2 separate regions of the Homo sapiens genome follow, and region 2 is linked to region 1. Evidence: fine-mapped expression QTL. Tissue or cell type: whole blood. Region 1 holds a variant in brackets; the other region holds the start of a gene. All regions are shown on one strand. Distances are between the middles of the regions.

Region 1 (8,104 bases):
CTAGATAAAAAGAAAAATAAGAAAACTATTTAAACCAGAGCACATTTCATTTTTCCTCAGAATTTTGGGTGATGATATTCTTTCCTAAAATTAGACAATATGAGAGAAGGCAAAAACCAATGGAGTGCTTTGAGACTCCTTCCTCTTAGTGATTAAGATTTCTCTTAATGACTTCTATTATGTATTTTATTTTCTTATATATTTTTTCATTGTAATTTTAAAAAATCTTTTTACACGTCAAACTCTCCCACCAGCCAACAAGTTTCTCAAGGACACTCAAATCAACAAGTGTTTATTGAGTAACTACTGTATATCCAATACTATGTGAGGTATAAAAAATCATGTCATGATAAATAAAACAGGCAGGGCCAGAGGTATGCCTTACTCATATTTGTGTCTCCAGTGAGCAGGATGGAAGAAGCACTAAACCACTGAATGAAATATAATTCAATATTCATTTTAATTAGTCGGAGCTGAATTTTTACACCTTGGTATGACTTAAGATCGGAATAGCAGTAAACCTGTAGTGCCAATTTGGAACTTCTCTAGTAAGTGGTCCAGAAATGCCAATTTGTCTTCAAACTATGTGCCATTGTTAGACTTTATAAAACAGGCAAGTTAAGACAGAAGAATACCTTATCTAAGAATGTTTAAGGCCGGGTGTGGTGGCTCACGCCTGTAATCCCAACACTTTGGGAGGCCAAGGCGGGCGGATCACGAGGTCAGGAGATCGAGACCATCCTGGCTAACACGGTGAAACCCCGTCTCTACTAAAAATACAAAAAATTAGCCAGGTGTGGTGGCGGGCGCCTGTAGTCCCAGCTACCCGAGAGGCTGAGGCAGGAGAATGGCGTGAACCCGGGAGGCGGAGCTTGCAGTGAGCCGAGATCGTGCCACTGCACTCCAGCCTGGGCAACAGAGCGAGACACCATCTCAAAAAAATAAAAATAAAAAAAAAGAATGTTTAAACTGGGACATCAAGCAGTTTACTATTCTGAGACTTCCCATTTTAAATCTGTCTGCTTTCAAATTCTTGTTAATTAGAATTACAATTTATCAATTACTGCCTAAGATATGTGATTTTAAAAAAGGATTTGTGGGCTGTGCGCGGTGGCTCACGCCTGTAATCCCAGCACTTTGGGAGGCCGAGGTGGATGGATCACGTGGTCAGGAGTTCGAGACCAGCCTGACCAACATGGTGAAACCTCATCTCTACTAAAAATACAAAAATTAGCCAGGCGTGGTGGTGCACGCCTGTAATCCCAGCTACTCGGGAGGCTGAGGCAGCAGAATCACTTGAACCTGGGAGGCAGGGGTTGCAGTGAGCTGAGATCACACCACTGTACTCCAGCCTGGTGATACAGCAAGACTCTGTCTCAAAAAAAAAAAAAAAAAAAAAAAAGCAAGGGGGTTCTGCCTGGTTTTGAATCCCAGCTCTTCCACTACATAGTGTAGCCTGGATGTAAAATGATAATAATAAAAAACATCTATCTCATATTAAGGCTACTGTTTAAGGATTAAATTAACATGTTCAGAATAGTACCTTAAATTAATGCACAGGCCCACAACTGTTACCCCAATCCATTGGGGGCAAGATGTTTTGGACAGTACCACATAATTAAATACATTAATATTTCTGTAGTGACGTTGCGTGTGGTGGCTCATTTCTGTAATACCAGCACTTTGGGAGGCCAATGTGGGAGGATTGCTTGAGCTTAGGAGTTTGAGACCAGCCTGAGCAACATAGTGAGAACTCATCTCTACAAAAACTTTTTAAAGTCCAGGTACGGTGGCTCATGCCTGTAACCCCAGCACGTTGGGAGGCCGAGGTGGGTGGATCACTTGAGGTCAGGAGTTCAAGACCATCCTGGCCAACATGGCAAAACCCCGTCTCTACTAAAAATACATTAGTTAGCAAGGTGTTGGTGCATGCCTCTAATCCCAGCTACTTGGGTGGTTGAGGCATGAGAATCGATTGAACCCAGGAAGCGAAGGTTGCAGTGAGCCGAGATTGTACCACTGCACTCCAGTCTGGGTGACAACGTAAAACTCTGTCTCAAAAAAAAAAAAGAAAAAGAAAAGAAAAGAAACAGGGTCAGGCATGGTGGCTCATGCTTGTAATCCCAGCACTTTGGGAGGCCGAGGCAGGCGGATCACCTGAGGTCAGGAGTTCAAGACCAGCCTGGCCAACATGGTGAACCCCCATCTCTACTAAAAATACAAAAATTAGCTGGGCGTGGTGGCAGGCACCAGTAATCCCAGCTATTTGGGAGGCTGAGGCAGGAGAATCGGTTGAACCTAGGAGGCAGAGGTTGCAGTGAACTGAGACTGCATCACTGCACTCTAGCCTGGGCAACAGAGTGAGACTCCGTCTCAAAAAAAAAAAAAAAAAGAAGAAGAAACAAAAGTTTTTAAAAACAAACCAGGCATGGTGACATGCACCTGTAGTCCCAGCTACTCATGAGGCTGAGGTGGGGGGATCACTTGAACCTAGGAGGTCGAGGCTGCAGTGAGCCAAGATCATACCACTGTACTCCAACCTGGGTGACAGAGTGAGACCCTGACTCAAAAAGAGTATTTCTGTAGTGAAACCAATTAATATCTACAGCAAGTAATAAAGACTAAACATAGCTTCAGTTCAGGTTACATTTTATACCCTAATGAGTTGTGGCACCATTACAGCAAAAATAAAACAAAACTTTAGGAGTTTTTTAGATTTCTGAATGGCCAGCAGGGCTTAATGGCTCATGCCTGCAATCCCAGCACTTCTGGAGGCCAAGGTGGGTAGACTGCCTGAGCCCAAGGGTTCAAGACCAGCCTGGCCAACATGGTGAAACCTTGTCTCTACAAAAGATACAAAATTAGCTGGGTGTGGTGGCATGTGCCTGTAATCCCAGCTACTCAGGAGGCTGACGCTGGAGGATAGGTTGAGGCTGCAGTGAGCCATGACTGCCACTGCACTCCAGCCTGGGTAACAGAGCGAGACCCTGTCTCGAGAAAAAAAAAAAAAAAAAAGAGAAAGAAAAGAAAAAGTATTTCCAAATGGCAAATAAGGAACTCTGGACCTGACCTGGGTTGTTACTGCTACTGCTGGTATGAAGACTAGGCCTTACACATAGGACTAAGATCTCATGTCTACCTTTAAGAAGCTCATGTTATGGTTATTCATGTGACGAGCCTAACTGAAACACAGACTAGCAGATTAGAAAGATCAAGACACAGGCAAGAATGATAGGAACAGAGCTGAGGATAAGAGATATCATACTGGCCAAGGTCTCAATGGTGTAAGAAAGAAATAGGTGGAAGAAAGACAATTACAATCAGACATCTTTAACTGAGATAATACTTTCTTCTCTTAAGGGAACTGTTTTGTTACAGCAGCCCCTTGATTCCATCTCTCAAGAAGTGCCAGAAAAAAAAAAAGAAAGAAGTGCCAGTTGGGTGCAGTGGCTTAAGCCTGTAATCCCAGTGCTTTGGGAGGCTGAAGTGGGAGGATTTCTTGAGGCCAGGAGTTTGATACAAGCCTGGGCAACATAGCAAGACCCCTGTCTCTACAAAAAATTTCAAAAATTAGCTGGGCATGGTGGCACACACCTGTAATCCTAGCTACTTGGGAGGCTGATGTGGGTGGATTGCTTGAGCCCAGATGTTTGAGGCTACAGTGAGCTATGGTGGCACCACTGCATTCAAGCCCGGGAGACAGAGGGAGAGGCCATCTCTAAAAAAGTAATGCCTTCTCTTGATCCACTGAGAAAGGGTTCTACTGAGGTTAGAGGCTGAAGAATGCTGATTCAGGACCATACCCTACCTTGTTTCCCACCAGTCTTCAAGAAAAGCTTGCCTATGCTTGGCTGGGATACACAAAGAGACATAAAATTAATACTCTGTAGCTGCATTTCCCACTTTCTATGATATTAGACCATCTTAGGTCTAATTCAGTGCTCTTCCTATTTATCAACACGTGACTTAGAGCTGATCTTCCTCTAAGATTTTAGGGGAGACTTCTT[T/C]CTCCTTGTTCTCCTAACATCTGATCTCAAGAAAATTCATCTACTTCCTCTCTTCTGTACTCTTCCAAGAAGGTACATGGAACACAAGAGAAAGGTACAATTATGTTTGTAAAACATAGCTAAGAGTTTGTATCAAATAATCTGTACATTTTAACTTGTTTGCTTAAAGTAATCTGCTAAACTCTGATTGACAAGTCATAGTTATTAAAATATGAACTTTTGGCCGGGAGCAGTGGCTCACGCATGTAATCCCCGCACTTTGGGAGGCAGAGGCGGGCAGATCACCTGAGGTTAGGAGTTTGAGACCAGCCTGGCCAACACGGCGAAACCCTGTCTCTACTAAAAATATAAAAATTAGCTGAGTATGGTGGCACATATTTGTAATCCCAGCTACTTGGGAGGCTGAGGCAGGAGAATCACTTGAACCCGTGAGGTGGAAGTTGCAGTGAGCCGAGATCACACCACTGCACTCCAGCCTGGGTGACAGAGCGAGACTCCGTCTCAAAAAATACAGAACTTTCAGTTGGTCAACCAAGGTGTAAACAGGTCAACAGACTTGTGTTAGAATAGGAAGCCAATGGATAAGACTAGGAAGAACACTGTCAAACCTTTCCTCATGGCCAAAACAAACACTAAAGTTGACTGACAAGCAATTAATCTCTACTTTCTATAACAGAAATGGCATAAAAATGTTGTTTCATAAAAACACTTACTGAAAATATAAAAATATAACCGCTGTTGGTTTACAAGACCAGCTGAGAACTGGATGAAATATTAATGTCTAAGAACCTCTTTAAAAATGAATACATTGAGGCCGGGTGTGGTGGCTCACACCTGTAATCCCAGCACTTGAGGAGGTTAAGGCGGGCGGATCATGAGGTCAAGAGATCAAGACCATCCTGGCCAACATAGTGAAACCCCGTCTCTACTAAAAATACAAAAATTAGCTGGGTGTGGTGGCATGCGCCTGTAGTCCCAGCTACTCGGGAGGCTGAGGCAGGAGAAATCACTTGAACCCAGGAGACGGAGGTTGCAGTGAGCTGAGACTGCGCCACTGCATTCCAGCCTGGTAACAGAGTGAGACTCCGTCTCAAAAAAAAAAGGATACTTTGGCTGTGTGCAGTGGCTCATGCCTGTAATCCTAGCACTTTGGGAGGCCAAGGTGGGAGGATCTCTTGTGCCCAGGAAAGAGAGGCTGCAGTGAGCTGTGATCACGCCACTGCATTCCAGCCTCAGTAACAGAGACCCTGTCTCAGAAAAAAAACAAAACAAAACTTTCAGCAGTGAGTACAGTCATTCAATCTCCAGATACTGTCGTTTCTTTTTATACTCCACTCCAATCTGTCAACTCCTTAGTTTGGCATTCAAGTTCCTCTACTACCTACTTATATCTTACTTTCCACTTCTCATCTACATGAGTCACACAGCTCAGTTAAGTCAAGCTCCTTGTTAATCTTTATTTTGAACCTTTCATAGGAAATGCCCTCACTGTTCCTCCCTGTTCATCCAAATCCTTCTTATCACTCAAAGCCCAATCCACATCCTACCTCTTCTATAAGATGCTCTCCAACCCAACCTTTATCAGTTCTGTATACCTAGCCTTGGTCACTATCATATAATCTAACATTAGATTTAGCCTTGCTCACTATCATATAATCTAACATTAGATTTATGTATTTTTTATGTTTTGCCATTCTTTCCCAACTCTTCTACTCTTTTGGCCATCCCTCATGTGCCTACCACAAAATATATATTTTGTTAATACTCCTCCTTTGAAAGGAAAAGAAAATAACTCCATCCTGCTTTCCATCATCCAGATATACATTTCCCTATACTTCCTAACCTTTTCATGTATTACTACAAATTGAAATTGGACTTGATCCCAGGATTGGTCAAATGTAAGTCACAGTTTTCAGTGAACACGCAGTATTTACACAAAAAGCTTAATCTGCCTGAAGGAGAGACAACTTAGATTTATCTAATAGAGTTCCTCATTAAGCCCAGTCATACTTCTGACCTTAGCTGGTGGGAGAAGGTGGGGTACTCTCATTACTTATTTTGAAACCATCTTAATTTATCAACTCACCTATTACATGGGCAGACACAAAGGCCACAGCATTTGTTGAGTTCTGTTAAAGTCTTCTCTGTCTCTCTCATGTCCTTATTTATTTGGTCCAAGCCTTCTTCTATGCGGTTTAGTTGTTCTAAGAATAAGTTGTGAAGTTAACACTTTGTGTTCCATTCACAGTGTCAACCAGAAAATGCTATTATTATGGAACAGCAAACTTCAACCTTGAATCTACCAATAACTCCCCACAGTGAGTATGTCAGTGTCAAAAGGTATTAGAAGCGATTCAACATGATAACAATCTTTCACGTACTGATCCGGAGGCACCTAGCCTCTTGCTGTGGAAAAATTTGTTCTAAAAAGCTTGTATATGGCTGGGTATGGTGGCTCACGCCTGTGATCCCAGCACTTTGGGAGGCCGAGGTGGGCGATGACCTGAGGTCAGGAATTCAAGACCAGCCTGGCCAACATGGTGAAACCCCATCTCTACTAAAAATACAAAAATTAGCTGGGTGTGGTGATGGGTGCCGTAATCCTAGCTACCTGGGAGGCTGAGGCAGGAGAATTGCTTGAACCCGGCAGTTGGAGGTTGCAGTGAGCTGCGATTGCACCACTGAACTCCAGCCTGGATGACAGAGTGGGACTCCCGCTCGAAAAAAAAAAAAAAAAAAAGAATCTTGTATAGTAGGACCAAGGGACGGTTATTTAGAGATCATCCTTACAACCAAGTTAAGGGTACTTTGACGAGGTCAAATCCCCATCATTTCTATAATAGGTTCAAAACCTGAGGGCTATTATAAGAGTAATAAAAACTAGACCTGATTACTCAGGGCCAACTCAACTCAAGTGTTTCCAAGCATACCTGAATCTAGATCTGTTTTAGAACTTGATTTCTGAGGATGATGTAAGAATATCACAATGTCTGGCCAGACACGGTGGCTCACGCCTATAATCCCAGCACTTCGGGAGGCCGACGTGGGCGGATCAAGTGACTCTTGAAGTCAAGAGTTCGACATCAACCTGGCCAACATGGTGAAACCCTATCTCTACTAAAAACACAAAAAATTAGCTGGGTGTGGTGGTGGACACCTGTAATCCCAGCAACTCAGGAGGCTGAGCCAGGAGAATCACTTGAACGTGGGAGGTAGAGGATCCTGGAGTAAGCCACGATTGCACCACTGCACTCGAGCCTGGGTGACAGAGTAAGACTCCGACTCAAAAAATAAAAATTAAAAAAACAAAACAAAACAAAACAAAAGGCCCGGCACGGTGGCTCACACCTGTAATCCCAGCACTTTGGGAGGTCAAGGCGGGTGGATCACCTGAGGTTAGGAGTTCGAGACCAGCCTGGCCAACATGGTAAAACCCCGTCTCTACTAAAAATACAAAAACTTAGCCGGGTGTGGTGGTGGGCACCAGTAATCTCAGCTACTCAGGAAGCTGAGGCAGGAGAATCACTTGAACCCAGGAGGAGGAGGTTGCAGTGAGCCAAGATCACGCCATTGCACTCCAGCCTGGGCAAGAAGAGCGAAACTTCATCCCCCACCCCCAAAACTAGACAAAAATAGCGAAACTCCGTCCCCCACCCCAAAAAAAAAGAAAAACATAGTTGGGTGTGGTGGCAGGTGCCTGTAATCCCAGCTATGTTACTATCATAATGTCTAAGGCACATATAACCAATACACAAAATAAGCCATGCTGGCCTAACACATACTTGGTATATACAATTGGGCATTGTTGCCTGCCATCCCAAATAGACAGTGAACATGATATATAATTCAAATCAGAAGACAAGAAGTAAACATAACATTCTTATTTTACAAAGGGAAGGCTCTCCCAAAGGCTGAAATTTGTATGTGGCTAATTTGATAGGGCTTTTTGGCATCACAGTCAAATTAAGAATTTCTGCTAATAATTTAACTTACCCTTTTGTTCATCCAGCATAGTGATGGTCTTGATTCCTGCATCCTGAGACTAAGACAAGGGGGGAAAAGCTGATAGTACAACAAAACAAACCAAAAACAACAGA
Region 2 (8,092 bases), 700 kb before region 1:
GATCTCTGTGAAGCTCTCATGGGAACTGTACCGGGAAAGAGAAGATTCTCTTTGCTAGAACCAGAAGGAGAACACATTCCCCAAAGGGAGACCAGCCCACAACCTCCCCATTGCTCTCCTAGGTAAGGGGCCCTCTGTGGTGAAAATAGTTCTTTCAGCCAGACTTTTCTTTCCCCTAAAAGTTTTTGTTACTTTAAAAATATTAACACATAAATACAAGTTCATGGCACAAAGATACAAAGGGTATATAGAAAAAAGCCTTGTGCCTAGGCACTGATGTCTCTATCTAGAAGCAATAATTTTCTAGAAATAGTCTATATAAACACAAGCAAATTCATATATATTCTCCCCACGCACACATACCCTTTACACAAAGATAGTATACTATTCACATTGTTCTCTACCTTGCTTATTCCACTTAACAATACAGCTTGGACTGGGCGCGGTGGCTCATGCCTGTGATCCCAACACTTTGGGAGGCCAAGGCTGGGGGATCACTTGAGCACCGGAGTTCAAGACCAGCCTGGGAAACATAGTGGGACCCCATCTCTACAAAAAATAAAAATTAGCCAGATGTAGTGGCACATGCCTGTAGTCCCAGCTACTCTGGAGGCTGAAGTGGGAGGATCACTTGAGCCCAGGGGTTGAGGCTGCAGTGAGCCATGATTGCACCACTGCACTCCAGCCTGGGTGACAGAGCAAGACCCTGTCTCAAAACAAATAAACAAACATACAAATCAAGCTTGGAGATTGTTCCACATCCTTTTATATAGAGCTACTTCATTCTTTTTCACCTTTATGTATTTTATTGAATGCATGTTCCATAATTTATCTACCTAATACCTTATGCATGGATGTTTAGGTAGTTTCTAGTATTTGGCTATTATAAATATCAATGCCTTGAATATACTTGTATAAATTTCATTTTACACCTGTTTGATCATTTGTATGATAAATACCTAGAAGTAGAATGGCTGAATCAAAAGTATAGACTTTTTTTTTTTTAAGTGAGAGCAAGTTTATTAAGAAAGTAAAGGAATAAAGAATGGCTAATCCATAGGCAGAGCAGCAAAAAGTATAGACATTTAAAGTTTTGGTAGAAACCACTTAATTTCCCTTTGTTCTGGACTGAATTGTGTCCTCCCCAAAAATTCATATGTTGAAGCCCTAACCCCCAATGTGACTGTATTTGGAGATGGGACCTATAAGAAGGTAATAAAGGTGAAGTGGGGTCATAAGAATGGGCTTCAATCCAATAGGAATGATGTCCTTATAAGAAGACGAAAAGGAAAAGACACCAGAGATCTTTCTCTTTCCGCGTGGACACAGGGAAGAGGGCATGTGAGGAAGAGAGCCTTCACCAGACACCAAGCCTAAAGGCCCTGATCTTGAACTTCCATCCTACAGAAGGGTGAAAACATAAATATCTGTTGTTTAAGCCACCCAGTCTGACTAACACTCTCCGTAGAGGCTGCACAAATTTGGAGAGGCTGCACCAATTATTTATTAATTAATTTATTTATTTCTATTTTTTTGAGACAATGTCTTGCTCTGTTGTCAAGGCTGGAATACAGTGGCATGATCTTGGCTAACTGCAACCTCCACCCACCAGGTCAAGCGATTTTCATGTCTCAGTCTCCTGAGTAGCTGAGATTACAGGCACCCACCACCATGTCTGGCTAATTATTGTATTTTTAGTAGAGATTGGTTTTCACCATCTTGGCCTGGCTGGTTTCGAACTCCTGACCTCAAGTGATTCACCTGCCTCCCAAAGTGCTGGGATTACAGGCATGAGCCACCGCGCCCAGCCGAGGCTGCACCAATTTAAATTTGCACTCCCACTAGTATTATAAGAGAGCAACTATTTTCCTAAAACATCACCAACTCAAAATGTTGTCAAACTCTTTTATCTTTGCCAATCTAATAGGTGAAGAAAGAATGATATCTCAGGGTGTTTTTATTTTGCATTTTTATTAAATGAGGCTGAACATCTTTCCATGGAATTGATAGACATTTTTATTTCCTTTTCTGTGAATTGTCTATCATATCCTTTACTCATTTTTCTAATAGTTTGTTATTCTTTTCTTATTGATTTATAGGCATCTTTTATATTAAGGAGATTAATCCTTCGTGATATGAGTTTCAAATATTTTACCCAACTTGTTGCATATCTTGTTTTGTTTTGTTTTTGAGACGGATTCTCACTCTGTGGCCCAGGCTGGAGCACAGTGGCCCAGTTTCAGCTCACCGCAACCTCCAACCTCCCGGGTTCAAGCTATTCTCCTGCCTCAGCCTCCCAAGTAGCTGGGATTACAGGCACATGCCACCACGCTCAGCTAATTTTTTGTATTTTTAGTAGACATGGGGTTTCACCAAGTTGGCCAGGCTGGTCTCAAACTCCTGACCTCGTGATCCACCCGCCTCGGCCTCCCAAAGTTCTGGGATTACAGGTGTGAGCCACCGTGCCCCATCTGCATATCTTTTAACATTGTGAATATTTCCATTTAAAAATTTTTAAGGAATCAAATTTCTCAGTATTTTCTTTTTGTCTTCTGAGTTTTGCATAATATTTTTAAAGGTTTTCCCAAGTTAACTTAAGAAGAAGTGTCTCATTTTTTCTTCTATTACTTTAAGAATTTAATAAGAGTTTTGATCCATCTGAAATTTATTTTGATGTGTGGCATAAGATAGGAAGCCAACTGTATTTTGACAAGCTAGTTGTCCCAAAATCATTTACTGATAAATCCTTCATTTCCCCATGGATTTGAAGTGCCACATTTAGCATACATTTAATACATGTATTTTGATCTATGGACTTTTCAATTACAGTAATATCATATTATGTGTTCATATCTAGGAAGGCTGGTCACACTTTATTATTATCTTAGAAATTTCCTTTTGAACCTTAGAATCAGTTTACCTAGTTTCAAAAAACAATCTTGGTGTTTTTATTGGGAATGAATTAAACTTAAGATCAACTTGGGAAGAAATGACCGCTTTATAAAGTTGAGTTGTCCTACACAGGATGGTGATCTTCCTTTTTATCTGCTCAAGTCTTATTTGGTGTCCCTCCATACCGTTTCCAAGTGTTTTACTGACAGCACTTCACATTTCTTAAGTTTATTTCTAGAAATTTCACCTTTTGTTGTTGTTGCTATTATAGGTTGGGTCTTTAATTACAGTTTCTGACTTGTTATTGATTGCAGGTATGAAAACTATTGGCTTCTATACTTTTGGTATTAGCCAGCTCACTAAATTACCTTTTATAATCATTGTTAGTAGATTCAAGTTTTCCAGGTAAAAAATGACATCTTCAAATAATGAAAAATTAACTTCTTCATTTCTTATGAAGGATTTTTTTTTTTTTTTCTGAGATGGAGTCTTGCTCCATGCTGGCTGTGCAGTGGCACGATCTTGGCTCACTGCAACCTCAGCCTCCCAGGTTCAAGCAATTCTTCTGCCTTAGCCTCCTGAGTAGCTGGGAGTACAGGCGCCTGCCACCACGCCCAGCTAATTTTTGTATTTTTAGTAGAGAGAGGGTTTCACCATATTGGCCAGGCTGGTCTCGAACTCCTGACCTCAGGTGATCCGCCTGACTTGGCTTCCCAAAGTGCTGGGATTACAGGCATGAGCCACTGCGCTAGTGAAAGGCAGAAGTTTCATTTTTTTTTTTTTTTTTTTTTTTTACATAATAAGATCCTTCAAATGAGTTCAAAAGTTCAAAGTTTTAAAAGTATAAAAGAGTAAACAGCAGAAAGATAACCTTTCTACCCCACTGCCCAGATCCCCTCCCCACAGGCAACCAATATTTTTGGCAGTGTGTTTTATATCATTCTATAGACGTCTCATGTATATGCAGCAAGTACAGCTGCCCTGAAAGTGCTTCTGGTAACACAGTTTCACAAGCCCAGGTAGGGCCAAATATGAGATCCTTCTCTTGTCTCTTCAGGAACTAAAGAAAGAAAAATTGAAAAGACATAGGGCCTGAGTCCCAAGATAGTTCCCAACCTTCTCTGGTAGAGGGTCCCAGACCAGGTAGGCTTGGAAGAGTTGGGGCCCCAGCTTCTACTTTTAATACATTTATTTTTCACCAACAAATTCTACTTCCTTATCTTTTTCACACAGATAAATTGCAGATGCACGTGTTCTCTCTATTATCAAAACAGCCCATGAACATCTTGCAACTTGCAGCCCCTGTCACGTTTAGGGCCTGAGATTTGGAGTTGGATATGGGACTCCTGTTTGTGGCCTCCTCTCTTCCAGAGTCTTCCAGTGCAGTCCAGATAACATCTCTGAGAGTCTCTTGAGACCACTGAAGCAAGAGGCTTCAAGGTTTGTTCTAGGCTTCTCTAGTTGGCAGGTCTTCCCCATCCCACCCCCTCCCCCAGGGCTGCCAGGCGTATTCCTGCCTGGGCCTCCTGGCACAAGAGATAAAATGAACAGGGTTACTCCCAGTAACTGGTCCAGGAGATACCAGCAGAGAGGGAGTAGGAGAGAAGAAACATGTCAGGGTGCTCACAGGAGTAGTGGGGGGAGGTTTTGCTATTTCCAGATTCTTAAGCCAACAAAAGTGCCTTCATATTTTCTGTCTGGAAGACAGAAAGCCCAGAAGGAGCCCAGAAGCAACAGTTTGAGAGAGGCGCTTTCTGCGGCCAAGTGGATAAGAGGAGCGGCCTGCAACCATGGGACAGGGTGAGCCAAGCCAGCGCTCGACAGGGCTTGCTGGACTGTATGCAGCCCCCGCAGCATCACCTGTTTTCATTAAAGGAAGTGGGATGGATGGTAGGCGGGGAGATGGTGGTATAACTATGGTGGGGGAGGGGGTACTGGTGATAATGAGGTGGCTGTGGGGGGGGGGTGTGGTAGGTGGGTGCTGGTAGAGGTGATAGTGAGCTGGCTGTGGAGCGTGGTGTGATGATGGGTGCTGGTGGAGGCGGAGGCGGAGGTGATGGTGATGTTGCTGTGGGGTGGTTATGGGGTAGCATGTTGGGGTAAACTGGTCATGATAGTTGTATGATGGTGAGATGGTGATGGTGGTTAACATGGATTTATATTCTTATCCCAAGGTCATCATAGCATAAGTGTTCACAGCTTACTGATACAAATGAGAGACACCCTGGGTAGCATGAAGGTGTCACAGCTTCTACACCAAATGGGAGAGAAGGAGAGGAGGGAGTCAGGGAATCCACCTAAAAGGGGCAGAGGCAGACACAAAGCAAGAAACCAACACAGGTGGTCAGAGTCGCAGCACTCTTGGCAGGAATTATTATATCCTGGCCTGGGAATTGCCTGGCTGTTTTGTGTCCTGGGAGAAGCAAGCGGGTAGGCAGAGGGAAATGGTGCAGAGGTGTGGGGACAGTGGGGTGCAGCTGTGGTTCTGTTGCTATAGAAACTGCCTCACTCCCCTGCCCTGGTTGGTCTGGTGTGCGGAGGGCAACTGACGCTGAGACCAACAGCTGAGAAGGGAAGAAAAAGAACTCTGGGTGAATTAAGTCAATAATCTCAGCCACGTCTTGTGAAAATAGGGCAGACACCAATAAATTGTCCTTTTTTTTTTTTTTTTTAAACGGAGTCTCTCTCTGTCACCAGGCTAGAGTTCAGTGGCGCAATCTCGGCTCACTGCAACCTCCGCCTCCTGGGTTCAAGTGATTCTCCTGCCTCAGCCTTCTGAGTAGCTGGGACTACAGGCACCCACCACCATGCCCGGCTAATTTTTTGTATTTTTAGTAGAGACGGAGTTTCACCTTGTTGGCCAGGATGGTCTCGATCTCTTGACCTCGTGATCCTCCGCCTCGGCCTCCCAAAGTTCTGGGATTACAGGCGTGAGCCACTGCGCCTGGCCAAATCGTTCTTTTTATTCTGTAGAGACCAGACAAATTAAAATCTACTCAATCAGAGAAACACAAAGATATCAGGAGATTGTTTAGTCTAGTCCCAAACCAGAGGATGCCCCTGGGCACTAAATTCTTTCCAGGCAGTGGGTGGCAGAGGGCCCAGTAGCCACCAGATGAGAATCACTGAGTATGAACTCATGACATGCTGCAGTGGCTGGAGCTGGCTTGTGCTGACTTGCAAGAGCCAATTGCTAAATTTTGAGGAACCTTGTGAACCAGTTCTTAAACACAGGCATTATTAAAAATTAAATTGTATAAACTTACAAGTAAAAAATTTATATTAAAAAGAAAGATAATAAGTACTCTAAACTCATCACTTCCTACGTATTTTACTCCTTTTTACCTTTATGTTCTTGAGGGCGTTTATGTCTCCTGTATCTCTGTGCTGGAAAAACCACATGATGATGTGCCAGTCCGCGCCTCTTCACAGCTCTGCGCTTGCTGACATCACCTCAGTAGCTTCAGACTGGCCACAGGGGGCGTAGTTTACACAACAGAACTTGGCAAATGCTGTAACTCAGTACGCCCTTTCCCCTCACCGCCCCCTCCCCCCAGCCAGTCGTTAAACACAGAACTGCTTGAGGGGCACATCTGAGGCAGCTCTGGGGTATTGTGAAAGGCAGAGAGGGAGGAGGGTGGGGTATTGTGCACCTCTGAAGAGCATTCCACATGATCTCCGGGTTAACACAACTTCTCATGGGCTGTGGTACAAATAGGAGATGGTGAGAAAACACGAAGGTATCATTGCCTCAAGACCCAGTGGGAGAGAAGGGGAGGCAGGAGTCAATGAATCCACCTAAAAGGGGCAGAGGCAGAGATAAACCAAGAAACCAGGCAGACCTAAAGAATGCAGAAACCTCAGGGGCCCTGCGAGGGTCTGGCAGCACAGGTGGGGGCCTGAGGCCCCTGTGATGTATCTGAGAAAATCTCCTTTAAGGCCGTCTCAATGTTCTCATCCATTCATTGACGGAGCAAACACTGATTGGCTATCTATTGAGTTCTGCTGGGACAGAGGATGCAGATATGAGAAAGCACTGTATCTTGGGGAGCTCACAGTGAAAAGGGGAGCAGAGGACTAAGCAGGTGATGGGTATCAAATGGGATAAGTGCTGAAGAAAGTGGAGCAGAGTACTGTGGGAGTCCAGAGGACTGACCTCTGCCAGGAGGAGTCAGTGAAGGCTACAGAGGTGGGTGCCTTTGGATCTTGGAAGATGAGTAGACATCTGCCAGGTAGAGAAGAGATGGTGGGAGCCTTCTAGACAGAACAAGAATCCAAATGAATTCTAGTGACTCTTGCCGTAACACTATGGTCATTACGTGGGTTCGGATACACGGAGGCTCAAGTCATATGACTTAGGATGTGACTAAGGCATTCCACCATCCAATCCAACTCAACCAGTCTGCAGAGGCAGGGCTTACCCTGGGCCCCAGCACGAGCTTTGTGCTAAGCAGAAAGAGGAATCGTTTTTGGTTTCTGAGTGCTGCTGTACTTCAGTTTACAAATCCCAGCCTCCCCATGGCTACTTTATCTATAGCCATGGCCTGACCAAGCCAAGTGGAGGAGGGGGATACAAGGATGCAAGGGGCACCCAGGGACATGAGGACCAGACACAGAGAGGTTCCTTCCCTCCTCTGCACACTTTCACATTTCTTCATATTCAATAATGTCAGTTCTTTTGCCCTAAATAGACATCATTGGCATCTTCTATCATCCCCATCACCAGTGAAAGAAAAGTAGAACATCCTTCCCCTCTACTCTTCAGCTCTAAGTCAGAGAGACTGGGAATTGAGGAAAATTTGAAGTAGGAGTATCCTGAATTTGACAAGATCCGTCTTGTAGTCTAAAGGACCTTGCTATCAGGGTCATATCACTTCCCTGAAGTGGGTTAGACCTCATTTCATACCTGTGAGCAAAAGCCATAGTTTCTCTCTTGTGGCAGTTGAGCCAGTGCAAAAACTGCAGGCTGCCTTTCAGACCAAGGAGATTCCCAATGGCCTTCTGCTATTAAAGGAACAAAAAGTACACAATTCCTTTGCTGCAAAAACAAAACAAAACAAAAAAACCAACTTTTTTTCCAGCATTGTTCCTTATCTTGCGCTTGCTGAACATATCTTTTGACTTCTCTACTCCTTGTTTTTTTCTTCCCTCTTGTATTAGTCGGTTCTCACACTGCTATAAAGACATACCTGAGATGGGG

The links. PIP is the estimated chance that this variant, and not a neighbour inherited with it, causes the effect.
Region 2: it holds the start of EPB42, and the variant in region 1 is fine-mapped to the expression of EPB42 in whole blood (TOPMed, PIP 0.95).

What each region holds. Positions count from the first base shown.
Region 1 is chr15:42,513,344-42,521,447 of GRCh38, reverse strand. It overlaps SNAP23 (synaptosome associated protein 23), which reads right to left. Exons shown (of 8, transcript NM_003825.4): 4 at 8,001-8,049; 5 at 6,094-6,211. Among named protein-coding and RNA genes, the nearest start is that of SNAP23, 22 kb to the right of the region's middle. RefSeq lists a silencer at 3,110-3,310. The variant T/C (reference allele first, on the strand shown) is at 4,008.
Region 2 is chr15:43,217,416-43,225,507 of GRCh38, reverse strand. EPB42 (erythrocyte membrane protein band 4.2) reads left to right here and starts at 4,490. Exons shown (of 13, transcript NM_001114134.2): 1 at 4,490-4,692. The coding sequence starts at 4,683.